Regions from separate parts of the Homo sapiens genome. Here region 2 is linked to region 1. The links come from fine-mapping of genetic effects on gene expression. A gene starts in region 1. The other region holds a variant in brackets. All regions are shown on one strand. Distances are from middle to middle. Region 1 holds the start of MIS12 (MIS12 kinetochore complex component). Region 2 overlaps DHX33 (DEAH-box helicase 33).

Region 1 (14,148 bases):
CAGTTTTGCCCATTTTGCTACCTTACTTCACTAAACGTGGACAGCAGCTTTCATAAAACCAGCAGGCTCCTACCAGAATAGAAGTTCTAGTGGTCATCTCTAACAATTACCAGGTTACTCCCAAGATATCTTGAGCCTGTTGACGTTGGTCTTGCCACAACCCTGGCACTGTCTGCTCCTACCCAGTCCAAGTGCTCTTCAACTGTAGCCAGAATGCTCAATCTGCAAATGGTTACTGACCTGAGCTATGTGTACTAGGAGCTAGGGGAGCCAAAGAAAACACAGATCATGCCCCTGTCCTGGTTTGCCTGTAAGAGTATGTAACCTGGTGTTAAATACTCACAAAATAGATGGTGTTTTCAGAATTCTTATTCCACCAGGTTGATTGGGAAATACATCTTCCAAGAAAAAATATATGTGTCCAACTGCAATACCTAGAGTCAAGCAGAAATAAAGGATGAGGGAGAGAATTAAAATTTAGATTGCAGGTAGACCTACCAACACAAATTGCCTATATTTAGGATGAATGTCAACATAATTATTAAAAATTAATGAACTAATATTGTGGTATTTTACAATAGGTAATACGTGAAGGCCAAACAGAATAAACATGAAAAATAGTAACAAAATACTTTTACAGGTAAAATAATTTAAAAAATAGTGAGAAGAGCCTTACCCAAAAGGTCCACAATGATTGAGTTCCCCAACAACAAGGAAAATCCCATGAGCACCCAGGGCAGAAAGGGGGCCTGGAAGTTGAGAAGGCCGAAGAAGTTCATGCGGACATAGGGGTTCCTTCGGCTCCACACATAGACGAGCATTATTGTAAAGGCCTGGCCCAAGAAAACTAAGCTCACAAACAGACCAAAAAGCTAGCAGATGGCATTAAGGAAAATATCAACATTAAAAGTTTAATAGGAAAGACTGAGCAGGAGAACTAAAGATTGTGTTCTAACAGAAGTTTGAATTGGAAAAGTCAAGTTGTTACATCTTTAGAATAGAAGGAGAAACACCCAGAAAATAATTACCCAGAGCAATCAGGCAAAAATCTGCTTAGGCTAAATTATCGAGATTTACAGCTACTTCAAACAAATACTCTGCTTTCGTGAAGTTCTTGCCTCTTTGGAAAATGTGTTAATTCTTCAGTCAATAATTATATTAAAGCTTGCTCACGATTAGCACCTTTACAGAGATGAATAAAGCTAGCTGGAACAAAACCATCTTGTCAGACCGTACCATATCTAAGTCTATTGTATAGATGAAAATTCTTTTTCTGAAAAAATAATTTATTGGTTTTGGTAGCCACCAAGTAAATGTCTTACCAACTTAGTTTAAAAGTGAAGTACGCCAAGCAGTAATGATATAACTGAGTTGCTTAACAGTAACCCACCTGGGTTAAAAGTTCCTTTGACTTGCTCATCCTGTCCGACTGCTAGGTTTGGAAACTTGTCACAGAAAATGTGCTGTAAAATAAATGATAGTGCCCTGAAGCTAAGATCTAGAGAACTGTGGGAGACAGATGACAAGCTTTAGGAAGAGCCAGGGTGTTCTTCAACATTTTCCCGTGTTGTTTGTTGAAGGATACGGTCATTAAGAATCCACCAAAAAGGAACATAAATACAAAGTCTGCTGTCCGACCTCGGAAAGAGCCTTCTTCTAGCATTCGACAGTAACGATATCTTAAGTTCCAAGTTAAGAAAATATTAAGCACACGAATATGAACAAAGTAAAAATTTAATGTTATCTTGTAAGTACACTTGGATTCCATATTATTTGTAATTAGTCAAGTCTTCATTTGTATAAGAATGTTTGAGTGGTAATGTGATTACTTTTTTACCAAGCATTTGAGAAAAGGTCAAGACCAGCATCATTTTTTACAAACTGTCCCTGGCTGGGAACTAATCCAGATGACACACAGACATGCTTTCAGTCCCCTATTCTTTTTTTTTTTTCTTTTGAGACAGAGTCTCGCTCTGTCACCTAGGATGGAGTGCAATGGTGCCATATCGGCTCACTGCAAGCTCCGCCTCTCAGATTCAAGCGATTCTCCTGCCTCATTCTCCTGAGTAGCTGGGATTACAGTTGTGTGCCACCATGCCAGGCTATTTTTTGTATTTTTAGTAGAGAGCAGGTTTCACCATGTTGGCCAGGCTGGTCTCAAACTCCTGACCTCGTGATCCACTGCCTTGGCCTCCCCAAGTGCTGGGATTACAGGTGTGAGCCACCACACCCGGCCCTCCAGTCCCCTATTAAACCTTTAAAAATTTGTATTGTCTTTCCTGTGCTCAGCCACACCTTAATATGCACCATCTTTGCTTTCCCACATCCTAACTTGGAAGAAATCCGCAGCAAGAAGCCTTGTGTGCTCAACTACTTTTCCAGCCTGGCAGGTTGAGCACCTCAGTCAATAAAGATGAATTACGATGAGAAAAAACTTTAATGGAAACTTATCAGAATGATATCCTACATAGGATATAAAATGGATTCCTGCCATCCTCAGGAAGGAATGCAGCTGCAGATGAGTTGAACTGTAACTCCCTCTTAATACAGAGGGCAGGGGTGGAAGAGGAATGCCCTGCTCTGTGGCCCCAATTACCATTGGATCAGAGCTGGGGTTTTCCTTTCAACAAACCGGAACTTGACAAGCCCAGCAGACACAACCACTGTCTTTCAGCCAGTAGTTCCAGCAACCAGGACCCAAGGAGATCTCAGGTTCCCACTCCTCATGAACCCATTCCAAAACTTATGCCCAAATTCTGCTGAATTACCATTGCATTCAGGTTGTTTTACGGCTTCGAACCTGTTGGTTACTGTGGAGGTATGCCTCAGTTAAATCAATTCTCCCCTCCCTTGATCAGATTTGTAAGTAACAAAAGAGCAGAAGTGCTATCTTTTTATGGTTAAAACCTCCCATTTGAACAAAGTGACCTACAGACATTTTCAAAACATTACTACCTAAGCAACTACTTTATGTACCACTGACCCAGAAATCATAGCTAAGATGGTACCAAAAACAAGTAACAGGATGAAAAGTTTCAACTTAATTTTTTACTTCCTAAGAAAAAGTTTTGATGCTGACCCCATTTAATAAAGGATACAGAAAAATCATGTTAAATAAAAAATTGAATCCAACTGGCCCAAAAAATAAGAAGTTGGTGATTAATCTCCATATCTGTTAAAAAAAAATCAAGAGAAAGATGTATTAAGTAAAATAAATTACCAGGAAACAGTTCCATATTAATACAAAAGAAACATCCTATGACTGCGGTGGTTGAGAAGCCTTGGACAGAGTGATACTCTGTTCTGAAACAAAAACGGGGGCATATAATCTGATGTTAGATTTTTTTTGCTGCTTTTAGTTCAAAGTCTGAAAGACATCATTGGGACTGTGACATTTATAATAATAGGAAAGAAAATTTTAAATTGTGATCGTCGTATGGAGAAAGTTTGCTGGAAAGACTAGGTTAATCGGCAGAACAGAAAACAGTGCTTTCATATGTAGTATCATCATATAATAAATAGAACTGACATATCAGAGAAAAACTTCAGGGTCTAATATAAATTGCTGAGAAATGTTTACATTAGGCAGTCAGAAACATCTAAAAGAAAGGAAAATTCTTTTTTTTTAAACTAAAACTTAAAAAAAAAAAAAAAGAGATAGGTTCTCACTATGTTGTCCAGGCTGACTCAAACTCCTGGCCTCAGGGGATCATCCACCTCAGCCTCCCAAAGTGCTGGGATTACAGGCGTGAGCCACTGCACCCTGCCAAACACTTATTTTCTTGTTGGAAACCCTGATAGACCCTTCCCTACCCAACATCTCCACACCCACAGTAACCACTCTCAATTGTAGAGTGCTTAACGTTTTAAAATGTCTACTATCTCTTGTGATCCACAGACAAGCAAGCTACCCCCAATTCACAGATAGGAGACTAAAAGTTGACTGACTAGCTGAATACTAGTTATTCAGCTAAAAGTTGAACTTTTAAATGTCCTGACCAAGGACCCGCAGGAGTAGATGGAAACTCTGATGGCAAATCTAGAACTCCTAACTCCAAATGCACAGTGTCATCAAGAGTTTAACCCCAGGCAGAGTAAAGCCAAGTAGGAAGCAAGACTTACTTGGATGGAACTACAGCGCCATGTGAGTATTGTGCGAACACAGTGACAAGAGATGACAGGACTGCTTTACAGACCACTAAATTCTTGAGAATTGTTAACTATTAAAGTTGAAACAATTCAGTTCTACATATTAATTATCCAGATTTTAGAGTCCTCATCCTAGTGAGGAGACAAGCATACGCATAACTGCAAAGTAAAAGTGAGAGATGTTCTAAAACAAAGGAGGATGAGTACATAAAGGTTACACAAAAGCTGCGTTTTGAAAGGCAAGCTAGAGTTCAATGGATATAAAGTGAATGAAACACATTTGAGACAGACAGAACAGCATGTGTAGAGGCACAGTTATTGGCTTTTGGGTCTCTCCCCTACTCCAACTATGGTAAGATCATCCTGGAACAGAAAAATCCATCTCTCTTTTAGCATTTTATTTTGAGACAGGGTTTCGCTCTTGTCTCCCAGGCTGGAGTGCAATGGCACAATCTCGGCTCACTGCAACCTCCGCCTCCCGGGTTCAAGTGATTCTCCTGCCTCAGCCTCGCCAGTAGCTAGGATTACAGGCATGTGCCATCACGCCTGGCTAATTTTTGTATTTTTAGTAAGAGACAGGGCTTTACCATGTTGGCCAGGCTGGTCTTGAACTCCTGACCTCAGGTGATCTGCCTGCCTCAGCCTCCCAAAGTGCTGGGATTACAGGCGTGAGCCACTGTGCCCAGCCTCTTTTGGCATTTTAATCACTGGAAAGGACCATCTCCCATTGTAATCTAATAAACCACCATATAGCTTTAGATGTTTGGAATTTGGTTAGTATGATCTGATCCCTGGAAGACAGATCACAATTTAAAAGCACTAACAGAATTGAGTTTCTGGACCATGGTGATAACACCAAGGTGGTGGGTGTGCCTAGGTGCTGAATGGACAAAATAAGGCCATCCCTGTGAGACAACCCCTAAGCAGCTAGCTAGTCAGCCTCCTCTCATAGGACAACGTTAAGTCTAAACCAGTGATTTCCAAATACAGGAACTGGACACATCAAAACGATGCAGGGAACTTTAAAAATAAAACACAGATTTTAATTCCTACCCTTGCAAATTCTGATTTGGTACTTGTTGAGGAGCTTGAGAATCTCTTCAAAGTTCCCTAAGGGATTCTCAAGTCCAACCAGGCTGCAGAATCACTGCTTTATATCCTGACAAGGCAACTTATAATCAAAGGTCCCCACTGGGTTCTTTTTTAGGATAGTGTATAACAGGATTTGCTACTAAACAGTAAGAAAAAGAAGAAACTGAAGCATTAATCACTATTGTGATGAACCACTTACTTGAAAGTGTTTAAAGATTAATTCAGGATTGAAGTACAACTGAAAAGGTGTGATCAATTCCAACTGCTGAAATAGAAAAAGAGCTTCTTAAAGCAAATCAAGAAACAAAATTTCATCATTTACAACAAAGAATTAGTAGGTCTAGCAATTTCCAACTCTCGGTCACTTAGACGTGATTTCCTTTAAGCCTTTCTTCTTAGGCCAGAGGAAGAGGTTGGTAAAGAATTCTCTAGGATTGGTAGAATTCTTTGTATCCTCAATACCTAACACAAAAAAGTCTGTTTTATGTTGCAATAGTTGAGGCTGACATGAAGAAATGAGGCAGACAGGTGGTGATATTTTAGACACAGGACAAATAAAAACAGCTGCTATGAATCTACCCACCACATGGGCACCACCTGAAACAGCTGTATGAAACAACAAAACTCACTTGAAATAACGGAGACTGGAGACCCTGCCACCGTTAGGGCTGGGTACCTCCAGCTAGCCCCTTATTTAGATCCAGAGACCCTTTTTATTATAAGCCATTCCCCTCTCGACAGTTTCCAGCTTGCTTTCCCCATTCCTGTTTCTTCACTAAACGGACCTTCCTCTCACTAGTCACCATGGTACCACCTGGCCATTGGCAGAGCTCTCGGACACATTTCTTGGGTGGGAGGCTCCCGCAACCCTAACCCGCTATAGGTCCGGCGCTCATCTCTTAGAAACTGACCTGACCCCCCATGAAGCAGCACTCCCTTCTCGCGTCACTGGATAAGCATTCTTGGCGCCAACTCGAACCCCAGAGTAATCCCTGTACGCCTCCACCCATCCCCGGGACCAGCCCCTCTGGGCCTCCCCGAGGCCCAAACCCCAGTTTCCTGAAGACCCAGTCATATCCAGCCCAGATAATGAGAAGGTGGCACTGCAGCTGCTCACCACGGCGGCGGTGGTGAGGACGCAGGCAGTGGTGTAGGCGCGGCTGACCGGTGGGATCTGCAGGTACTCCAGCCGCAAGCTCTGGTACGCCATCTTCCCCACCGTCGCCTGCCCCACCCCCCACCCACCCCATTTCCCCTTCCGCCAGCAGGCCCCGGCGGCGGGGCGGGCCCAAAGGCCCCCCGCCCACTTTAGTTTTCCCGCGACTGCCCAATCAACGCCAAGCAACCGCAATCCGTAGAGACCTAAGGAACGCACATCCGCCAATCACGAGTTGCGTCGCCACCGCCCCCCCCCAGCGCCCCATCTCCCCACCCTCTCTTCTCCACCAGCCAACGTCCGGGAAAAACGAGTAAGTACAGGTTCCTTCTGCCAATCCCCGCCGGCCACAGCTAACTTTCCCGCCCGGCCCCTTTCTGTCATAATTGAGGTGTCCACAACCAGCCAATCAGGAACGCGAGAGTATCCCGCGTTTGCTTTCGCTCGCCGAGGCGCGTATCAGTCGGAATTTTGGGGAGCCAACCGCGCCGTCTGTCCCTGGCAAGCCAGCGGCGGTTTAAAGGAGGTGGCGGGAAGCCTGTGTGTGCTTCAAATCGTCACCCTCATGGTCGCTCCGGTAAGTGCTGCGGGGCAGCATTTTCTCTGAGGAGGAGCGGGGACGGGCGAGACTGGCATAAGCGTCTTCGCGAGGGAGCAAGGCGGCCTGTGGGTCGGCCTCACCCCGGCCTCCGACCTGAAGATCCCAGCATGCAGCGCGGGCGCGGGGCCCGACGGAAGCCGGGAGCCGGCCGGAAGCAGTTCCTGCGCTCTGGCTTCTGGGTCCTGTCCTGCGCGATCGCGGGGTCTTAGACAGCTCAACTCGCCGAGATGACCTGGGCACCTCTGCGTTGAATCGGCAAATACTGATCAAGCCGCATTTATTCTGCTCTCAGGAACTCTAAGTCTAGCAGAGAAGATGAGGCGGTAGAAGTTCATCAGTCAGTGCCCGAAGAGAGGTCCTAATGGGAATTCGAAGAAAGGAGTTAATCAAGGAAGTGTATTTTTTTGTTGTTGTTTGAGATGGCGCCCACCTGTAATCCCAGCTACTTGGGAGGCTGAGCTAAGAGGATCACTTGAACTTAGGAGGCAGAGGTTGTAGCGAGCCGAGATCATACCACTGTACTCCAGCCTGGGCGAAAGAGTGACACTTTGTCTCAAACAACAACAACAACAAGAAAATTAGCCAGGCATGGTGGCCTGCACCTGTTGTCCCGGCTACTTGGGAGACTGAGGTGGGAGGATTGCTTGGGCGCGGGAGGTTGAGGCTGCAGTGATCTGTGATCGTGCCACTGCATTCCAGCCTGGGCGACAGAGCGACAACATGTCTCAAAAGAAAAAAAGAAAAACAGAAAGAAATCCTACCTTACATATACAGCCAAACAGTTATAACCACTCCATATTTAACCATTACAAACGTAAATTTTTATTTTATTTTATTTTTTGAGACAGAGTCTCGCTCTGTTGCCCAGGCTGGGGTGCAGTGGCACAATCTCGGCTCACCGCAACCTTCGCCTCTCGGGTTCCAGTGATTCTCCTGCCTCAGCCTCCCGAGTAGCTGGGATTGCAAGTATCCACCATCACGCCTGGGTAATTTTTGTATTTCTAGGAGAGATAGGGTTTCGCCATGTTGGCCAGGCTGGTCTCGAACTCCTGACCTCAGGTGATTCGTCCATCCGGCCTCCTAAAGTGCTGAGATTACAGGCATGAGCTATCGTGCTCAGCCTACAAACATAAATTCTTAAGATTGGCTGCATCTTATCTTCCCATAAGATTTGACTGTACTGCTTATTGCAAATTATTTCATAAAGTGCGTCCTAAATTCACCTGATAATTGAAGTAGCAGTTTGTTTTAGCTAATTGCCTTTATCTGAAGGAATAATAAAATTTCTCTTATTTCTATGACAAGCAATATCATTTCATCTCAGAAAAAGATGCCTAGGTTGAATTCCCACAATGACAAGGAGATAGGGGTTTTATTTTCCTAGATGTTTATATTTGAGAGGAATTACTCGCAGACCCTTGAAAAAACATGTCAGGGTTATAAAGCTGACAAGGGACTTACTCATCTTCTAATTGGGTTTTTTTCAGATGGCTTGGCTGGAGGACAAGCAAATTGAGGACATTGGCAACGGAGTGATCAAAATGATAGATCATGAGGCCTAAAATGAATAAGGAAAGAAGAGAAGTGGCAGAGGCTGAGAACAGAAAGAGAGGGTGGAGGGGCTGTAAATCTTGAAGATTAGGGTATAATATGAGTATATGGGTAAGAATTGGAAGAATTGTGTAGGAGGCAGTAGTCAAAAAGTAGAAGCAGTTTGGAAGAGTAGTTACAAATATCAAGAGCCAGGTGGCTAAAAGGTGGAGCTATAGGTCATTGAAGCTCAAGAAACTGAGTCTCTAGGGCATTGGTTAAGTCATCTGTCTAGACTTCAAAGTTGTCTAGGATGATAATTCAGAAGACTGATCTGTGCCAAAGTCACAGGTAAGGGAAGTGAACAACGAGGAGGGGAAAAGGGAGGGTATAGGCTGATGGAAGGAGCCTCAGAGAGGCAAAGAGTTTATATCCTGTTGTGGGAGTGGCATCAGGTATAAAGGAACACAAACTCCTTATTTTTTATTGATTTGCTTCTTTGTTTGCTATCTGTAATGTGATTGGTTACTTCCTGCAGAAGATTTTTTTTTTCCAAATGAATTATTTCCTTTTTACATTTGCAGGTTTTTCACGACTGAAAACAACATAGCAAAATAAGCCAAGATGTCTGTGGATCCAATGACCTACGAGGCCCAGTTCTTTGGCTTCACGCCACAAACGTGCATGCTTCGGATCTACATTGCATTTCAAGACTACCTATTTGAAGTGATGCAGGCCGTTGAACAGGTTATTCTGAAGAAGCTGGATGGCATCCCAGACTGTGACATTAGCCCAGTGCAGATTCGCAAATGCACAGAGAAGTTTCTTTGCTTCATGAAAGGACATTTTGATAACCTTTTTAGCAAAATGGAGCAACTGTTTTTGCAGCTGATTTTACGTATTCCCTCAAACATCTTGCTTCCTGAAGATAAATGTAAGGAGACACCTTATAGTGAGGAAGATTTTCAGCATCTCCAGAAAGAAATTGAACAGTTACAGGAGAAGTACAAGACTGAATTATGTACTAAGCAGGCCCTTCTTGCAGAATTAGAAGAGCAAAAAATTGTTCAGGCCAAACTCAAACAGACGTTGACTTTCTTTGATGAGCTTCATAATGTTGGCAGAGATCATGGGACTAGTGATTTTAGGGAGAGTTTAGTATCCCTGGTTCAGAACTCCAGAAAACTACAGAACATTAGAGACAATGTGGAAAAGGAATCGAAACGACTGAAAATATCTTAATTGCTCAGTAGTCAAAAGGAGGAGCCTGTCAAAAAGTAGAATCATAAGGACTGTTCAAACCATAAGGACTGTTCAAATCATACCAGTGACTGTTCAAACCAACCATACTTTTTATTAGATTTGCTTTGTCAACTCTTTCTTGTATTCTGTGTTTTCCTCTTTTTTGGTCCACTTTGCTGAGGTATGAAGTGTACTACTTTGAACTAGGCTGAAGCATCTGAGTCTTCTAATAAGTGGGAAGGGATCCAACAAAGAAGCCATGACCAGTTAAAGATATTTGCAGAGTTACACCTTGGTCATAAGTCCTTTGTGACCTTGATTATTTTGGCTTACTCTTTGGATGAGACCAGACAAGAAAAGGATTAAACGGGTGGCTCCTTTAATATTATTATTATTGTTTTTGAGACAAGGTCCCTTTCTGTCACCCAGGTTAGAGTAGATTTCAGTGGCACAATCTTGGCTCACTGCAACCTCTGTGTCCTGGGCTCAAGTGATCCTCCTGCCTCAGCCTCCCAAGTAGCTAGGACCACAGGTGCGTGTCACCATGCTTGGCTAATTTTTTTGCAGAAACGAGGCCTCACTATATTGTCCAGGCTGAGTGGCTCTTTTATTAACCAGTCATTACACTGCGGAACAGCCAACATAGAGTACTTGCTCTCGTCCTGTGAATTTTCTTTCATGAGGGAGTCAATATGTAGTGGAAAGAAGCATGTAGCAAAAAAGACAACCTTGATCTTTAATAAAAAAGAAGTTGGTTTATTTCCAAAATAAATCCCCTGACAAAAAACCTGGTGATGTTAAGCAATTGACTGTCTTAGAGTCCAGCAGAAGACCTTAGACAAAAAAAGCAGAACCCACTGGAGTAGAAAAGGAAGCATGTAGCATATACTCAGTAGTGAAATTTAATTTTACTGACTGTTAGGTATCTATGCCAATTTGTTTTCATACTTCAGTTGGTTTTGGAATCTGCCTTATACCTAATATTTATTTATTCACACTCATAAGCATCAAATATTTAATGCCCTCAGTGGGAAATTTGTGTTTAAACTCAATGGAATCTAATATTTCTTTATGTCGTTAGTCCCTGTAAAATGTTAGGTCACCCAAGGAAAGGGGAGAAATAGCAATGGTTGTTCCTAAGGTATTGCTTGCCCTCCATGTCTTCCTAAAGAGCAGAACTTGGAGTTTCTCCTTTATGTAGAGAAGAAGTAACTTAGGGTGTATTTGCAATGAAATATTCATAGATATTGAAAGCTTGTGTTTACATGAAATATGTTTATTATCAAGAAGTCCTTTTTCCAATTCTGTACATTAAATATATGTGTTTTAAAGGGTTTGGTTTTTTATTTTCTGCTGTCTATAATGCCATGGTATATTTCTTTCCAGTATGACTTTTTACTCAATTGAAAACACTATCTTTTTCACATTTATAGCTTATTCAGAATCTGCTGTAGTGGGTCGAACAGTGATCCCTCCGAAGATAGGTCCATGTCCTAATTCCTGGAACCTGTGAATGTTGCCTTATTCAGCAAAGGGGTCTTTACAGGTATAATTAAGGATATGGAGATAAGGAGATCATCCTGCATTATTTGGATGGACCCTAAATCCAGTGAAAAGTCTCCTTAGAAAGGCAGAGGGAGATTTCAGACAGAAAAGGAGGAGGTATTAGGACCTAAAAGCAGGTTGGGGCCGGGCATGGTGGCTCACACCTGTAATCCCAGCACTTTGGGAGGCCTAGGTGGGCAGATCACTTGAGGTCAGGTGTTCAAGACCAGCCTAGCCAGCATGGTGAAAACCTGTCTCTACTAAAAATATAAAAAATTAGCCAGGTGTGGTGGCACATGCCTGTAATCCTAGCTACTCGGGAGGCTGAGGCAGGAGAATCGCTTGAACCCGGGAGGCGGAGGTTGCAGTGAGCAGAGATCGTGCTACTGCACTCCAGCCCGGTGACAGAGCAAGACTCCATCTCAGAAAAAAAAAAAAAAAAAAAAAGTTTGGAGTAATGCAGCCCCCACAAGCTGGAAGAGGCAAAGAAGAGATTCTGCCTTAGAGCCAACAGGTGGATTGCATTTCTGGCTTCCAGAACTGTGAGAGAATATGTTTTAAGTCATCAGTTTGTTACAGCAGTCACAGGAAACAATATACCTATTAGTAGGCATGTTAGTGAAATCAGAATATTGAGATGTTCATGAGGATATAAGCTATCTATTAAGGAAACTACTGCTGAGGCCTTGACATTATTATATGCAGTAATATGGTTCATCTTAATACAGTTAAGTATGGTCATGACCTGGATAGAAGGGTGAAATCCAGTGTTTGAACTCGGGTCCATTTTGTGTTGAGTACATGCTTAATAATTGCTGGACATTACTGTTGCTGTTTGTTATGGTGGTGTCTCTGCAGAAATAATATAGTTGACCCTATCATCCTCTAAAAAGTAAATTCTCCCTTCAGAAATTTATGACTAAATCAGAATTATATACAGTTGTTTACCCATTCTCTGCTTCCCTGGAATGCAAGGTTGTTTTAACGTGTGAAAATGCATCAATAGAACAGAATAAATAGAACCACTATAGAATAAAGGATAAAATTGTCCCATCTCCCATCCAGCATCAATCTCACCCAATTTCTCACTTTCCCCCCCACCCCAATATGAGATCCCATTGTTCTGTAATACCAAACCTTCCCTGGTTTTATTTATTCTCTACTGTCATGCCTATTCACCATTACATAATGGATGTAAATGCAAAAAAAAAAAAATTCTTAACATAGCTGGGTGCAGTGGCTCATGCCTGTAATGCCAGCACTTTGGGAGGCTGAGGCAGGCAGGTCGCCTGAGCTCAGGGGTTCAAGACTAGCCTGGGCAACATGATGAAACCCTATCTCTACTAAAATACAAACATTAACCAGGTGTGGTGGCACGCTCCTGTAATCCCAGCTACTTGGGAGGCTGAGGAACAAGAATTGCTTGAACCCGGGAGGTGGAGGTTACAGTGAGCCGAGATTGCACCACTCCACTCCATCGTGGGTGATAAGAGTGAGACTGTCTCAAAAAGCAAAAAACAAACAAAAATTAGCCAGGTGTGCTGGCGTGCACCTGCAATCCCAGCTACTCAGGAGGCTAAGGCACGAGAATCACTTGAACCCGGGAGGCAGAGGTTTCAATATGAGACGAGGTCCTGCTGCCGCACTCTAACCTGGACAACAGACTGAGACTCTGTAAAAACAAACAAACAAACAAACAAACAAAGCCAGGCATGGTGGCTCACGCCTGTAATCCCAGCACTTTGGGAGACTTGATGTGGGAGGATTGTTTGAGCACAGGAGTTCAAGACCAGCCTAGGCAACATAGTGAGACCCCATCTCTACAAACACTAGAAAAAATCAGCCAGGCATGGTGGTGCATGCCTGTAGTCCCAGAGACCTGGGAGGCTGAGGTGGGAGGCTAGCTCAAGCCAGGGAAGTTGAGGCTGCAGTGAGCCATGGTTATGAACACTGCACTCCAGCCTGGGTGACGGAGTGAGACCCTGTCTCAAAAAAAAAAAAAAAAATACTCAACAAAATATAAGTAAATCAAATCCAGTAGTATATAAAAAGGATTATACACGATGACCAAGTGGGATTTATCCCAGGAATGTAAGGTTGGTTTAACTGCTGAAAATGAATTAATGAAATACACCACCTCAATAGAATAAAGAACAAAAACCCTATGATCACCTCAATGGACACATAAAAACATTTGACAAAATTCAACACCCCTCCATGCCAAAAACACTCAACAAACTAGGAACAGAAGGGAATTTCCTCAACCTGATAAAGGACATCTATGAAAAACTCACAGCTAACATCACACTTAATGGTGAAATACTGAATATCAGGAAAGAAAGCAAAGGAGGCCCACTTTCAGCATCCTATTCAGCATTTGCTGAAGATCTTACCCAGGAAAGTTTCCCAAGAAAGAGAAATAAAAGGAATCCAGATTGGAAAGACAGATCGTATCTGCAGATGATATAATCTTGTAGAAGACCATTCTGTTGTCATCTTAAACTATTAGAACTAATAGTTATGATTATTAGAACAAATAAATGAGTTTCAGCAAGGATTCAGAATATAATATCAATGTAAGAAAAGCTATTATTTTTCTTTTTTTGAGATAAGGTCCCGCCCTGTTGCCCTGGCTGGAGTTCAGTGGCAAGATCTCAGCTCACTGCAGCCTCAACCACCCGGGCTCAAGTGATCCTCCCACTTCAGCCTCCAGAGTAGCTGAGACCACAAAGAGCTTGCCACCATGCCCGACTAATTTTTTAAATTATTAGTAGAGATGAGGTCTTGCTATGTTGCCCAGGCTGGTCTCAAACTCCCAGGCTCAAGTGATCCT
Region 2 (15,857 bases), 26 kb before region 1:
TGAACCCGGCAGGTGGAGGTTGCAGTGAGCTGGGATCGCACCACTGCACTCCAGCCTGGGCAACAGAGTGAGACCCTGTCTCAAAACAAAAACAAAAACAAAAACATACTACAGCAGGGGCTTGGTGGCTCACACCTGTAGTCCCAGCTACTTGGGAAGCTGATGTGGGAGAATCACCTGAGCCCGGGAGGTTGAGGCTGCAGTGTGCTGAGAATGTGCCACTGCACTCCAGCCTGGACAACCAGAGTGAGACCCTGTCTCAAAAATAAATAAATAAATACATAAATAAAATCAAACACACTACATATACTCATATATGCATACATTTGCTCTAGAAGTCTACTAGAAAATGGTTCCAGTGGTTGTTCTAGGGGAAGGAAACTGTGAACCTGAGGATCAGGGCAGGACCCTTGTATACCCATCAACTGGTGACTTTGTGTTTTCTTTCCTTCTTTTTTAAACCAATTGCATTTCTTAAGAAAAGGGGGGGCAATAAAAAGAAAAGGAAAATGGTGCGTTGATGAGAGGCCAGGTGCCAAAGCCAATATCATAAATATTTCCAATTATTTTCTTCTTCTGTAGAGAAATTACTAATGAACAGGAGAGATGGATCAAATTCCAGTTAAAGGCAAAGAAATGTGATCTTTGCAGTCCCTGTGCTGATAAAAGTACAATTTCATTACATTTCTGTAGTATCCCAAGGACTCGCATGATGACCTTCACTGGTTCCAGAGGTCAAGGAACTTTATTGATGGTGCTGATAGTACAGAATCTATCGTTTCATAGCTAGGAACACTGGCGCATGCCTGTGGTCCCAGCTACTTGGGAGGCTGAGGCGGGGGGATCGCTGGAGCCCAGGAGTTGGAGGCTGTGATGGAGCCTGTGAATAGTCACTGCACCTCCACCTGGGCCACACAGTGAGACCCTGTCTCTTTAAAAGTCAATCAATGTATCTATCTATCATTTCATGATTTTCAGATGCTTCTCTAATAACTAATGTTGTCATCCACAAAATTAAATAAACAAAAGGAGATGACCAATATACTTTATTTTTTTGGAAGTGTCCATTTGTTGTTGTTTGTCTCCTCACCCACCTTCTGCAAAACTGTGGATTTCACTTACCTGGAGATGGCTTCGACATGAAGTCAAAGGTGAGCACATTTGGGACTTTCATTGCTAGAAGCTGAAGCATCACACTGGCCAGGTTACACCTGTGAAGAGCATGAGACCAGGGTCATGACCTGATCCCTCTGCCATTGAGTCAGAACCCCTCATGGTGGAGTGTGAGTAAAAACTGCAGCTCTGGGCAAGCAGGAGAGACATGGTGACAAACAGCAGCAGTGCAGGAGCAACTGGTGCCTACCTCTGGATCTCTGGCACGGTCATCTTATCAAACTTCTCAAACTCGTCCTCCGTGTAGAGCCGGTAGCAGATGCCACTGTCCTCTCTGCCAGCCCTCCCTGTGCGCTGCCAAGCCTGCGTCTTCGATACCCGCTGCACTGCTAACACCTCAAGACCACTGTCTGGATGGAGAGTGAGCCCCATTAGTGCTTCATCACATGAACAAACTCTTTCTACAGTGTCGATAAAAAGAAGCACACCAGTGGTTCTTTCAGCAACACGGGGGTCCAGAAAGCCTCAAGGCTAGCACAATGGACAGCACAAAACCAGACTGCTCCGCAGCGGTTTGGCCCTAGTGAAACAAGGCTTTGCCATAAGCCCACTGTGAAATCTGTTACAAAAACATCAGAAAAACCTCACGCATGCAGCAAGGGGCGAGAAGAGTAGTTTCCGAGGTCTTGCCTTAGATGGTAGGATGGCCAACCCCTCCAGTTTGCTTGGGACAGAGGGTTTCCTGGGATGTCGGATTTTGGGTGCTAAAACTGGGAGTTTCAGCAAACTAGGATGGGGGTCATACTATCAATCAATGACTACGAAATTAAATGCCTCAAATCACTTGTGTGCTTTATCCTCCCTCCCAGTTCTGCTGTAAGACAGAAATAATGTGATGTCTGTTTTCTAGCAGTAAATGAGGTTCATTTTCTTGATAAAGGTGTATCATTAGCCTGGCACTGGAGACCCAAGCTCTTTCACCTACGTCATCACAAAAAGATACACCTGTGGAAGCCAGGACCCTCAAATGTTTACTAGAGCATTTCAGTTCAATAATTGGGAGCAATAATTTCAGTGGTCTCAAATCCTCTGTGGAATAAAGCAAAGTATAAAACAGACATGAGTCAAGATGACCTTAAGTTAGCTTCTCACTGCACCTTCTTAGGAGAAGCCAGTGCTCCTTCCATGCCTCACCTCAGCCAGGAGATCTGGTTCCTTCCTGAGAAACCTGGGAGCTCAAACCAGCCATATATATATAGTTTCTGATGACACCCTTTGATTGACACCCAGCTGTCCCTGGCCTTAGAGCCGACTTCTGATGGGGTACCAGACCCTCTGCCCAGGTCCCTGACCCTGTGTGCCCAAGTTTGCTCAACCTGGGCTCTTCTTTCCTGCCTCTACTTCCTGTCTCACATACCCGCCTCAGGACTCCTTCGCGGACCTGGAGTGTAGGTGATCTCACTCATGGCGCCTGCCACCTGAATTTGTTAGTTACAAACATGAAACACTCAGGGGAAAACTGTGGGACTACAGTTTCAGTGGCTGCTCACTAGACACAGGAGAGACATTCATGAACTACAAATTCTCACCAGGGTTATACTTCTTTGCTTTAACCATGCCCGTGTCAACTACATATTTTATTCCTGTAATGGTTATGGAGGTTTCAGCGATGTTGGTTGAAATGATCACTTTGCGATAGCCCTAAAAGGAGGAAGAAAACCAAAAAGCCGCATTGACACACGGATGATTCAGAAGTCTTCAAACATATTCTCACCATTAACTTCCACAATTCACTCTTGACCAACAGAAGATGACTCCATTATTAATGGCAGTCATTAATATTAATGGTTGGTCATTAAACCGGGCAGGGGAAGGGGACGCTGCAGTCTTAAAGGTCAATTTGAGGCAATGAGATGCAGTGGAACAAGCACAGGAATCAGAAGCAAGTAGATGTGGGTTGGAATCGTGGCCCTGCCAGTGACTTACTATGCGCCCCCTTGAGCAATTGTTACTTCCCTTCTTGGGGCCTCAGGATCCCCATGGGATCATAACCTGCCTTGCCGGTTCCCACGAGGATGACAGACAGTGGATATAAATGCTAGCACAGTGCCTGGCACGGCAAAGGCACACAAGAAATGGCACTATGGACAAATGCAATTTATGCTGGTCCTTAGAAGTCACTCGTTTACCTTGCAGCTTTGGTTTATACTCTCCCTCATCCCAACAACTGTCTCCCTGCTCCTGTCACAGGAGCGCTGCGTGTGTCACCGCGCATTTTATTCCTGCACCTCCTCAGTGCGCTGATCTGGCACCTGGGTATCCCATCCCATACACCTTATCTGGAGCCTGGTAACAGGTACAGACCTCGCTGGTGGATCCGTCTGGGTGCCCAGAATAGGGCTGGACAGAAGAGGTGGTGCACTCACCTTTGGGGCCCCTTGGAAGACTCGGAGCTGCTGTGCATAGGGCAGGGAGGCGTACAGAGGAAGGACCAGCATCGCAGGGCAGCCGTCTGGGAGGTGCTTTGCAATGTCTCGGCACGTCTTGCTCATGGCTTCGATCTCCTCCTGCCCAGTGAGGAACACCAGGATGTCCTGTGAAGAAGGGGCTTCCTGTAAAAAAAGTAGAGTGGGTTTACTAGGCATTGATAGAATTGCAGCTTGCACAGAAAAAGACAATGGTGATTGATGATGTTTCCCAGAGTTATTTCTCTTAACTATAGAAATGTAAATGAGCCTAAAAGTTGATGTCTAGCTTGGAGAGAACCCTTACCAGCAGTGTGTAAATGGTAACAGGCTGGGTGTGATGGCTCACGCCTGTAAACCCAGCACTTTGGGAGGCTGAGGCGGGAGGATCGTTTGCAGCCAGGAGTTTGTGACCAGCCTGGGCAACGCAGCAAGATCCCATCTCTACAAAACACTTTTTTTTAAATTGGTCAGGGGTGGTGACACATGCCTATAGTTCCAGCTGCTTGCCACTCCACTCCAGCCTGGGCGACAGAACGAGAACCTGACTCAAAAACACAAAAAACAAAACTGTAATATATAGGAGTTAGCCAGCTATGTTTATAGGCCAAGTGATGAAATTTTGAAGGGAAATCATCAGATTGATTTTTCTAACAAGAACAATACCATGAAAAGCATAATCAGGCAAGCAAATAAAATCTGCATGAAGCTTCCTTTCTTTTATAAGCATCTTGAAAAATGAAGTTGACAAAACAGAAGGAAACTTGGGGAAATCCTAATCTATGGAAATGAACAGGCGCAGCCATGCTGGAGAAGGAGCCTTTAATGAATGACGCCGTCGAAAGCGCTTTCACACGCCCCAAAACACACACTATACTCGGACAACTGCTTGAGATACTGAGGTTAATGGGGTTCCTCACTTTCAAATGGAACAACACCCAAGTGTGAATGACATACCTAATGCCCTGATTTTTCTTTGATTTCTGATCAGATACATTAATTTGTTTGATGTAAAGTGCTTAACACTTTGGGAGGCCGAGGCGGCCAGATCACCTGAGGTCAGGAGTTCGAGACCAGCTTGACCAACATGGTGAAACCCTGTCTCTACTAAAAATACAAAAAATTAGCCAGGCGTGGTGGCGCACGCCTGTAATCCCAGCTACTCAGGAGGCTGAGGCAGGAGAATCACTTGAACATGGGAGGCGGAGGTTGCAGTGAGCCGAGATTGCATCACTGCACTCCAACCTGGGCGACAGAGCAAGACTCCATCTCAAAAAATAAATAAATAAAATGAAGTGCTTGATGGACTGGGCGCAGTGGCTCATGCCTGTAACCCCAGCACTTTGGGAGGCTGAGGCAGGCAAATGGGTTGAGGTCAGCAGTTTGAGACCAGCCTGTCCAACACAGTGAAATCCCATCTCTATTAAAAATACAAAAGTTAGCTAGGTGTGATCCCAGATACTCAGGAGGCTGAGGCACAAGAATCACTTGGACCTGGGAGGTAGAGGTTGCAGTGAGCCGAGCTCGTGTCACTGCACTCCAGCCTGGGCGACACAGTGAGACTCCATCTCAAAAAAAAAAAAAAAAAGTGCCTAATGGCAAAATAAATAGAAAAAAATTTTAATAATTATATGTATATTTATGTATATATGTAAAAATACGTATTTTTTAATATGTATTTTTTTTCAGCCCAGTATTAACAGAACAAATGTGCAGAGGGATACACAGACAGGATAAAATCTAAAACAGTCAAAACCTCATGAGTGGGAGAATTCATCAAAGCCAGTGGTAACCTAATGCACCAGCAGCCATCATTCATGAAAAATTCTCGTTTGCTTTCTGCAGCTGAACAAGGCAGACTTCTTCCCCAAACACTATGAAAACGACAGTAAAGGCCACTGTCTTAGAAAGAAAAGGCAATGAGAGATGAGGAGTCTCAACTCATTTTGGAAGAGAGGGGAAAGGGGCTGGATGACTTGGCTAGAGGGAGGAAACTACAAATTATGTTGTGGGAGAGTGAAAACTCAGGGATTGGTTCAAAGTCTGAGTATAGAGTAGTTAAAGCCTTCAGTTCCCTCTCCTACCCAGGACGGCCAGGAGACTGGGAAGCCATGGGTCTCACCACGGGAAAATGGTGACAAAGTGAAGAGTCAAGATGACAGCTGCACAAAGGCCCAGGAGAGCCACCTGCCCCAACTGGAACAGCAGCATAAAGGACTCTGAAAAGACAGACTGTGCTTGAACACAGAACTATACACGACTGGCATATGAGATGTTGGAATATTTGGGAGAAAATGAGCCAGAGCTACCCAGAAAGCTTGCACAACTGTGTTGTTCAAGAAACAAGGTACAGGGATGATGGTGTGCTACTAGCAATGTGTGGTCATAATATTCTTAGTATTGATACTGGACTCAGAAAACATCATAATAGGCCAGACACAGGTGTGCAAGCATGTAGTCCTAGCTACTCCCAATGCTGAGGTGGGAGGACTGATTGAGCCCGGGAGTTCACGACCAGCCTGGGCAACACAGCAAGATCCTGCCTCAAAAACAAAAACCTAAACAAAAACATGATAGAACTGTCAAGAGGTTGGAGATAAAGGGGGTTGGGGAGGGGCATTCTAAACTTTTGTCACCATGGTAAGAAATTAGCATATGATGCCTGATACCCATAACTCAAAAAATAGTGGTCAAAGCAAGGTAGTTTAGAAACATGAAAGCAATATGTAGAGATTGAAAGTAGGTGCCCTAAACAGCAGAAATCTGGGATGTTGAAGTAAAAACAACTGCTATTCTTTTATTATAAACCTTTTACTATAAACTACTTGACTTTTTAAAACTTTAAATCCCATATGCATCACTTATTTTAAAATAAAAATTGACTGGGCACGGTTTCTCACATCTGCAATCCCAGTGCTTTGGGAGGCTGAGTCGGGAAAATCACTTGAGGTCAGGAGTTTGAGACCAGTCCGGGCAACGTAGCAAGACCCTGTCTCTACAAAACATAAAAAAAAATTAGCCAGGTGTACTGGTGTGTGCCTGTAGTTCCAGCTACTCAGGAGGCAAAGGTAGGAGGACGGCTTGAGCCCAGGAGATCGAGGCTGTAGTAGCTGTGATTATGCCACTGCACTCCAGCCTGGGTGACAGAATGAGACCCCGTCTCTAAATAAGTAAATTAATTAAATAAAAAGTTATTTTAAAAGTTTGCCTCTGGATTTTCTCAGAAAGCTAATAGGAAGGTAAAAACATTAAATTTTATACAAATTAAACAAAAGTGACTTAATGATTCAAATTTTTGAAGTAAATGTTTAATAAAATGAGAAAATATTTTTAAATATTCTCCTAATATAGTTTAAAAAAAAAAGAAACTCTAAGTTGCAACCCATTATTGGGCTAATGTCAACTTTTTCTTTTTTTGAGATAGGATCTTGCTCTGTTTCCCGGGCTGGAGTGCGGTGATCATAGTTCACTGCAGCCTTAATCTTCCAGGCTTAAGTGATCCTCCTACCTCAGCATCCCAAGTAGCTGGGACTATAGGCATGCACCACCACACCTGGCTGATTGTTTGATTTTTAGTAGAGACAAGTCTTGCTATGTTGCCCGGGCTGGTCTCAAACTCCTGAGCTCAAGCAATCCTACCCACCTCTGCTTCCCAAAGTGCTAGGATTACAGGTGTGAGCTACTGTGCCCAGCCAACATTTTCTTTAAATGAGGCACAAAATATCAGAGTACCCTACATGTAGTAAAAGACACAGTACTTCTTCTTTAAAAAATAATTTTTATAATTTTTTTTATAGAGACAGGGTTTTGCTATGTTGTCAGACTGGTCTTGAACTCCTGGACTCAAGTGATCCTCCTGCCTTAGCCTCCCAAAGCGTTGGGATTACAGGTGTGAGCCAC[C/G]ATGCCTGGCCAGAAGCAGTGTTTCATAGACCTATTTCAGTTATATGTATAGCGTACGGGGTTGCAAAAGAAAAAGTACCTTTTTTTTTTTTTTTTTGAGACAGACCCTCGCCCTGTCACCCAGGCTGGAGTGCAGTGGCGCGATCTCGGCTCACTGCAAGCTCTGCCACCTGGGTTCGCGCCATTCTCTTGCCTCAGTCTCCCGAGTAGCTGGGACTACAGGCGCCCGCTACCACACCCGGCTAATTTTTTGTATTTTTAGTACAGACGAGGTTTCACCATGTTAGTCAGGAGGGTCTCGATCTCCTGACTTCATGATCCACCCGCCTCGGCCTCCCAAAGTGCTGGGATTACAGGCGTGAGCCACTGTGCCCAGCCAAAAGTACTTCTTAATGGCGGTTATAATCAAGGAAAGTTGGTAAGCTACTGCTTTAACATGAAAATTTTCTGGCTCAGTGTAAGAAAGCTGCTGGTCAGAACTGAATTATTTTTCTTTTCAATGAAAATTAGAGATATCATAAATAAAGGATAAAAATCCAGACACAGCAAATGAACTCCTTATTCATTGTTTTTTTTTTGTTTTTTTTTTCAGACGGAGTCTCCCTCTGTCACCTAGGCTGGAGTGCAGTGGTGCAATCTCGCCTCATTGCAACTTCCACCTCCCGGATTCAGGCGATTCTCCCACCTCAGCATCCCGAGTAGCTGGGATTACAGGCACCCGCCATCATGCCTGGCTAATTTTTGTATTTTTAGTAGAGATGGGGTTTCACCATGTTGGCCAGGCTGGTCTTGAACTCCTGACCTCAGGTGATCCACCTGCCTCGGCCTCCCAAAGTGCAGGGATTACAGGCGTGAGCCACCGCACCTGGCCTCCTTATTCATCTTGATGACACAACTCACAAAGTTGTTTTATTCAGTAGCTTTTCTTTTCAAGGCTCAATGTTCTCACTACCAACTGCAAGATAAAAGAGAACTTTTCAGGAATTTGCCCCCAGCACCATACCTGGTGGATCTGGAAGACGGAGACAAGCGCGGCGTGCAGGTAATCATTCTGAGGCTGTTTGGTGTAAAACACCTGGATCGGATGCTGCCGACCCTCTAGGTAGAGGACGGGGGCGCCATTGAAATACTGAGAGAACAGGTCCACATCCATCGTAGCTGACATCACAATCACCTGCATAAGAGAACGAAGAGGAGGACCAGAAACAAATAGTGGGAAGGCCTTTCCGTGTCCCTCTCGAGCCCCAAAAGCAGATGATTGAGGCCTGTGCCACCCCCATCACAGTTTACTTTCTTCCAAGGCTCTGAGCAGAACAGGCAGAGGAAAACACCCTGCTAGAGCACACAGGTCTGTTTCCTTTCCTTTCCTTCTTTTTTTTTTTTTGAGATGGAGTTTCACCGGGCACGGTGGCTCACGTCTGTAATCCCAGCCCCAGCACTTTGGGAGGCCGAGGCAGGCGGATCACGAGGTCAGGAGATCGAGGCCATCCTGGCTAACACGGTGAAACCCCGTCTCTACTAAAAATACAAAAAATTAGCCAGGTGCGGTGGTGGGCGCCTGTAGTCCCAGCTACTTGGGAGGCTGAGGTAAGCAATGGCGTGAACCTGGGAGGCGGAGCTTGCAGTGAGCTGAGATCGCGTCACCACGCTGCAGCCTGGGTAACAGAGTGCAAAAAAAAAAAAAAATCAAGACGGAATTTCAGTCTTGTTCAAGTGACTCTCCTGCCTCAGCCTCCCTAGTAGCTGGAACGACAGGCATGTGCCACCATGCCTGGATCATTTTTTGTATTTTTAGTAGAGACGGGGTTTCACCACGTTGGCCAGGCTGGTCTCGATCTCCTGACCTCAGGTGATCCACCGGCCTCGGCCTCCCAAAGTGCTGGGATTACAGGCGTGAGCCACCGTGCCGGGCCAATTATCTGGATACTTTCAGATCATATTTCTGCCAACTCCCTGAAATACAAGTTGTCTATAAAGTTATGCTATTTAATGAACTTTCACTTTTTTTTTTTTTTTTTTTTTGAGACAGAGTCTCGCTCTGTCACCCAGGCTGGAGTGCAGTGGTGTGATCTCAGCTCACCGCAACCTCCGCCTCCTGGGTTCAGGCGATTCTCATGCCTCAGCCACCCAAGTAGCTGGGATTACAGATGTGTGCCACCACACCCAGCTAATTTTTATATTTTTAGTAGAGACGGGGTTTCACCACGTTGGCCAGGCTGGTCTCGAACTCCTGACCTCAGGTGATCCACCGGCCTTGGCCTCCCAAAGTGCTGGGATTACAGGCGTGAGCCACCGCGCCCAGCCAGGCCTGTTTCCTTCTGTGTGTTACGCATACTTTCAGGGGAAGTTTCCCTCATACTTTCAGGGGAAGTTTCCCTCATACTTTCAGAGGAAGTTTCCCGAGTTCCTTTCTCCTCTTCTGTGCAGCTTTCACCACTCCAAAGAGCACATCTGTGTGGATAGTCCGTTCGTGAGCTTCATCCAAAATGACACAGCTGTATTTCCGAAGCAAAGAGTCTGAAATTGCTTCACGCAGAAGCATGCCATCTGTCAGAAACTTGATCCTGGTGTCTTCTGAGGTGACATCATCAAAGCGCACTGTATAGCCAACCTGTGCAGGGAAACAATTTATTCAGTCACCAAACATTTCTTGAGCGCCCACTGTGTCCGGCACTAAGTTGGGCACTTGCACTACCACAGTGAACAAGACCAACACCAACGCTTCCCACTCCCTTGGGAAGCATGCAGTCTAGCTGCTGAGAGAGACAATGGTCAAGTTTACTTTAACCGCAATTAATGTAACTATTACAAGGAATATTTAAAATTAACCTTCTACCTCAAGCTATTTAATAGTTTCATGTGGGCCGGGTGTGGTGGCTCACACCTGTAATCCCAGCACTTTGGGAGGTTGGGGCAGGCAGATCACGAGGTCAGGAGTTTGAGACCAGCCTGACCAACATGCTGAAATCCCGTCTCTACTAAAAAATACAAAAATTAGCCACTGGGTGTGGTGGCACGTGTCTGTAATCCCAGCTACTCGGGAGGCTGAGGCAGGAGAATTGCTTGGTTGGAGGCGGAAGTTGCAGTGAGCCAAGATTGCGCCACTGCACCTCAGCCTGGGCGACCGAGCGAGACTATCTCCAAAAAAAAAAAAGTTTCATGTGAAGCTATGTACAGATATGAAAAGACGTCTAAGGTATTTTTAAGTGAAATGAGTACACACACACACAAATAAATCTGTCTTATATACAGTTCTGAGACTCATTCTCAATACTCACATATACACTGGCATAATGCTTACAATTTTTCTAGAATGATATATAGATAAGAGAGTTAAGAGAGGTTACTGAAGGCTTAAGATGTTCAAGGAAAGCAACTAATTTATCCAACCTGACGACAGATTTTGAAAGCAAAGCACATGGGACCAATAGAGCCCCTGATCTCTCAGGAGCTGGTAAAGAACTCTCGGAAGAATAGGCAAGAAAGCAGCTCACTATGTAAAAGGAGTCTTGTTTAGAAAAATAAAAGGCAGTGGGCATGGGGAGAGAGCTGTTGAGTCAAGAAGTACTAATAGTCAAGAAGGAACCAGGTACCAGCTTCCCAAGTTCAGTTCTCTTCTCATCTGAGACTCTAGTAGCAAGAGAGATGGCAGCTACTCGACGAGGCTGGGTCACAGCAATGATGCCCTGGCGGCTGATCCCTCCTTCATACAGGTACTGAGGGATCTGAGTTGTCTTCCCAGAGCCAGTTTCCCCTAGGAGAGAGGGGGAAAAAAAAAAAAGGCTCACTGAAATGCAAACTGGGGCTCGGCACCAGGGCTGGCACCTATAATCTCAGCACTTTGGGAGGCCGAGGTAGGAGGCTCTCTTGAGCCCAGGAGTTCAAAATCAGCCTGGGCAACATAGCAAGACCCCGTCTCAACAACAACAACAATTAGCCTGGTGTGGTTGCATGTGCCTGTAGTCCCAGCTACTAGGGAGGCTGAGACAGAAGGATCATGAGGCCCAGGAGTTCAAGGTTACAGTAAGCCATGATTGTGCCACTGCATGCCAGCCTGGGAGATAGTGTGAGACACTGTCTCAAAAAAAATAATAAAAATAAAAAAAGAAATGCAAATCGGCTGGGCACAGTGGCTCATGCCTGTAATCCTAGCACGTGGGGAGGCCAAGGGAGGAGGATCACTTGAGCCCAGGAGTTGCTCCTGGGCAACATAGGGAGATGCCGTCTCTACAAAAAATACAAACATTAGTTGGACGTGGTGGTGCACGCCTGTGGTCCCAGCTACTCTGAAGGCTGAGGTGGGCATATTGCTTGAGCCTGAGAGGTTGAGGCTGCAGTGAGCCATGATCACACCACTACACTCCAGCATGGGCAACGGAATGACACCCTGTCTTAGAAAAACAACAACAACAAAAAGCAAATTGACATAAATTTCACCAAACAAACAGCTCAAAGTCAGAAGTAAAAGATAAAATACCCTGTGTTGGTAAAGCCTCAGGAGAATGGGCATTCAGGTATGTATACTGCTGGTGAAATTAGCTGGTTAATTGGTATTGTTTCTCAGGTGGTCAAATTATGTTTTTTAAATCTTTAAAATGTTTATATCCCTTGACCCACAATTCTACTTGCAGAAATTGATTCTAACAAAATAAGTAAACATGTGTATAAAGATACAGCTTCAAAGAGATTTTATTCAATTTTGCTCCTGACAGAAAAAAATTGGAAACAATATAAATGTTCAAAAGGTAATTTACATAGTTAAAATATAAAATAAAATACAACCGTTACATAGATTTCTGCATACTGACTGACATGAAGAGACATCCATTCATGCACTGCTGCCTTCAACTCCTGGCCACTCCCCAGCCTGCTGCCTCCCTTCAAACCCTCTGCCTCTGCCCACACTATGGGCAGAACACCTGCCCTCACACTGCCTGCCTCGCAAACTCTAAGATGAGTTAGGCCTCAAACACGCTCCCCTGGCTGCACAGTGGCCCTCCTCTGGGCTCCGTAGTGCCTTGTTCATCTCTCTTCCAGCACTGACCATCCTGTGTTGTACAGAAGCGTTTAAATGTGTCCGTCCTCCTCCAACACCAGAAGGGAAGCTCCCAGAGGGCAGTGCTCTGAATGTCCCTCTCGTGTACTTGAGTATTTTGCATACAATAAGCACGCAGTAAATGTTACTTCCTACCCTGTGTGAATTCCTTTAACAGTGCCTGATTAGAGCAAAGAACTCAGTAAACCTGCGCTTCCTTCCCCTCCCTCTAGCTACCACCAGGCCTCTCTGACTTCAAAAAGTCCTCCAGTCCCATGATTTGTGGGTTTTTTTCCCTGTCAGTCTGTCAGCCCCCTCTGACTGCTCATCCTTCCTGACCCAGATAAGAATCAGACAAAGGATTTGATTATTCTGCAATCTTCCTGCTGAATCCACTAGGCAAAACCCCAAACTTTGATCCATGTCTCTATCTTTCATGCTCCTATACCAGGGCAACAGAGCGTTGCTAAAGTAAAATACAAAATGCTTGGAACCAGAAGTGTTTTGAACTTTGGATTCTTTCAAGTTTTGTAATATTTGCATTATACTTACTGGCTGAGCATTTTAAATGTGAAAATCTGAAGTCCTAAATGCTCCCAAATCCAAAACTTTTTGAGCATCTGATATGACACTCAAAGGAAATGCTCCTTGGAGCCCATTCTTGACTTCGGATTTTCAAATTTGGGATGTTCCACCTATAATCTGGCTGTGCAGAAGCAAACCTGAGTTTATAGTGTAGCCGAAATGCACCTAGGCACCACTACTGCCATCGATCTTTTTTCTTGTTTTTGCAGCCTGTCTCGTCTCCATCCTCCCCAAGGGCCCACTTGAAGCCCAGTGACTCCCATTCTGAGCAGGGCTCCTGAACCTGTCTCACAGAAGTGGGGTTCTAAAATGTGGTCTCTCCCTAACTGCCCCTAGAAGCCCTTCTGCAGTGCACCATCCTTACATCCGTTCTCTAGCCCTGCAGCCTCTTAGCCTTCCTCCTCTTCCAGACCAGCCCTGCATCTAGCCCTTGTGGCCAAGTTCCCCCGTCCCCCATGCCTCCTGATCTTTGCTCTGTTAGCTCGATTCTATCTTCTGCCTCCCTCCCTACTGAGTTCTTCCCCTCAACCTCTGAATACAGATGGTCCCTGTCTTAGAACTGTTTGACTTCAGGATGGAGCAAAAGTCAAAATCGTACAGTAGAAACTGTACTTTTGAGTACCCACACAACTGTCACTTTCAGTATGGTATTCAATAAATTGCATGAAATATTCAAGACTTTATTATAAAATAGGTTTCATGTTAGATAATATCACCCAACCATAGGCTAATGTACATGTTCCGAGCACACTGAAAGTAGGCTGGGCATATTAAATGCATTTCCAACTTAGGATATTTTCAACTTATGAGGATGGGTGGATTCATCCACACATAACCCCATCCTAAATCGAGCAGCATCCATAAAGTTTCTCTCAGCTTCCCTCCTTTTTCCTCAAAACAGAAGCCTCTTCCCCCTGCTTTCAGCCCTCAGCTCAATGACAAATCAGCTGTTACCCACACAGCTTTGTTGAAATAGCTCTCGATGGGATGGATCCACGATCAATAGTGTCAGAGATAGTCTGTGAAAGTCATGAAAAATTTTATGAGAGGAAATGTATGCAAGAAATGTTTTACAATTTAAAAGTGATTAGGCCTCCTGAATGCTTTATAAAATGTCACCATAACTCTTAGCTGTAGAACTTGCCTGCTTTGCAGCTAGGTAAAACCTAGGACACATGGAGCTAAATGCTGAAATAAGCCAGACCTTAACTGCACTTCTGTCTAAGTCCTAGGCTGTACACCTAGCACATAATTAAAATCCCGAACTTACCAAGGTTTTCAACAAAGGTAAAGGTTGCTAAAAGTTAACAGTGTAACATGTATTTAAAACTATTGAAGAGACACTTTATGTGCAAGGTGTGTAAGGAAAGTAAAGTACACTTTCGGTAAAAAGATTATCAGGAGGGATAAGAATGCACATTTTTACCTACGTTAAAAGGTTAAATAATTGTTTTGAGGGGGCCAGGTGCGGTGGCTCACGCCTCTTTCTATATCAACCAATCGGGCCTAGTAAAAAGCGCTGCTAAAAAACGTAAAGAAAAGGCTAAAAAGCTAAGGGAGTACCAAAACCACCAAATGGACTCTTGGTTTGAAAACAAAATCATAGCATGGGTCATCCCATTCCTGGGCCCTCTCCTAATAATATGCCTGGAACTAATGTTCTTACCCTGCCTAATTAATCTTTTTCAAAGATTTTTAACTGACAGGATCATGGCAATTTCACAAACAACTACCCAAAAACATCTACAGACGGCATTGCTCCTAGTCAACCCGAGACCAGGAAACTCTCCATCCCCTCGTTGCAGGAAGTAGCCAGAAAGAACATGCCGTCCCTCCTCCTTTTTATAACTATAGGGTCTGGATTGACAAAGCAGGAACATCACCATCTTGGACAAGCCCCTCATTCAAAAGTTCACCTTAATAAAAAACCGCCTAAATCCAAAAGGTATCAGCCTAATGGCTAAGGTCAGCACGACCATAAACCACAAATAACATCTCCAGCCAGAAACATTCCAAACTCCTCCCCGACCAGAGACATGTTAAGGGATAACCCCACTCTGGCCGGGAATATGCCAGCCGGGAATATGCCAGCCGGGAGATAAACCCCCTCGGGCCGGAAAAATGTCTGCCCCAAGATAACATCCCCTGCTCCCAAAGAGTCCAACCCTGCCAAAAACTTCTCCACACATATAAACATTCCAAGCTTGTGATAAGCCCCCTCACCCTAACACCAATATATACTCTTAGTCTGTAAGAGAAAGGGCTCCTGACCGAAATCGGCCAGGAGCGCCTCTCAGGTTTTAACTAAAGAAAAGCTGTCTTTAACTGCCAGCCGCGTTTCGTGTTTCTTTCCTTTTTCTTTAACTCTTACAAATAGCTCACATCCAAATCCAGTGGGCATCACATCCAAGTCCAGTATAACCGGACTTGACTGCTGCATCTGCTCACTCTCTATTCCTTTGACTAGCAGCACTCATGGGTCTCCTTCCTCTCTTTGGCTGCTCATCCTTTCCGTCCTTCAGTATCTCCTCTAACACGTTGGGGATCATAAGCCCCATGAAATCAGTCCCTGCCCCACAACTCTGCCTCTTTTCATGCACCAGAAACTACACCTTCCCTTTCGACCGGAATGTGTTCAGGTTCCCATCTCTCAAACGGGCTTTCCCCCCTGCCTAGAATGCCCTCCCTCCCACACGACCTCCCCAGCCGCCTCCTCACAAACCGGGTCAGATCCACTCTTCTAAGATCCGCAAGCCCCC

What was found. PIP is the estimated chance that this variant, and not a neighbour inherited with it, causes the effect.
Region 2: its variant is fine-mapped to the expression of MIS12 in sigmoid colon (GTEx, PIP above 0.99).

What each region holds. Positions count from the first base shown.
Region 1 is chr17:5,479,711-5,493,858 of GRCh38, forward strand. It overlaps MIS12 (MIS12 kinetochore complex component), which reads left to right and starts at 6,856. Exons shown (of 3, transcript NM_001258217.2): 1 at 6,856-6,974; 2 at 8,486-8,879; 3 at 9,113-11,101. The coding sequence starts at 9,153. The coding sequence ends at 9,770. It overlaps DERL2 (derlin 2), which reads right to left and starts at 6,468. Exons shown (of 7, transcript NM_016041.5): 1 at 6,359-6,468; 2 at 5,441-5,506; 3 at 3,099-3,172; 4 at 1,586-1,679; 5 at 677-872; 6 at 344-434. The coding sequence starts at 6,451. RefSeq lists enhancers at 6,126-6,305, 6,346-6,405, 7,026-7,125, 7,366-7,475 and silencers at 6,576-6,735, 6,685-6,852.
Region 2 is chr17:5,452,458-5,468,314 of GRCh38, forward strand. It overlaps DHX33 (DEAH-box helicase 33), which reads right to left. Exons shown (of 12, transcript NM_020162.4): 2 at 11,072-11,232; 3 at 9,862-10,089; 4 at 8,482-8,652; 5 at 3,540-3,725; 6 at 2,703-2,814; 7 at 1,364-1,523; 8 at 1,123-1,211. Among named protein-coding and RNA genes, the nearest start is that of DHX33, 8.6 kb to the right of the region's middle. RefSeq lists an enhancer at 15,577-15,857. The variant C/G (reference allele first, on the strand shown) is at 7,479.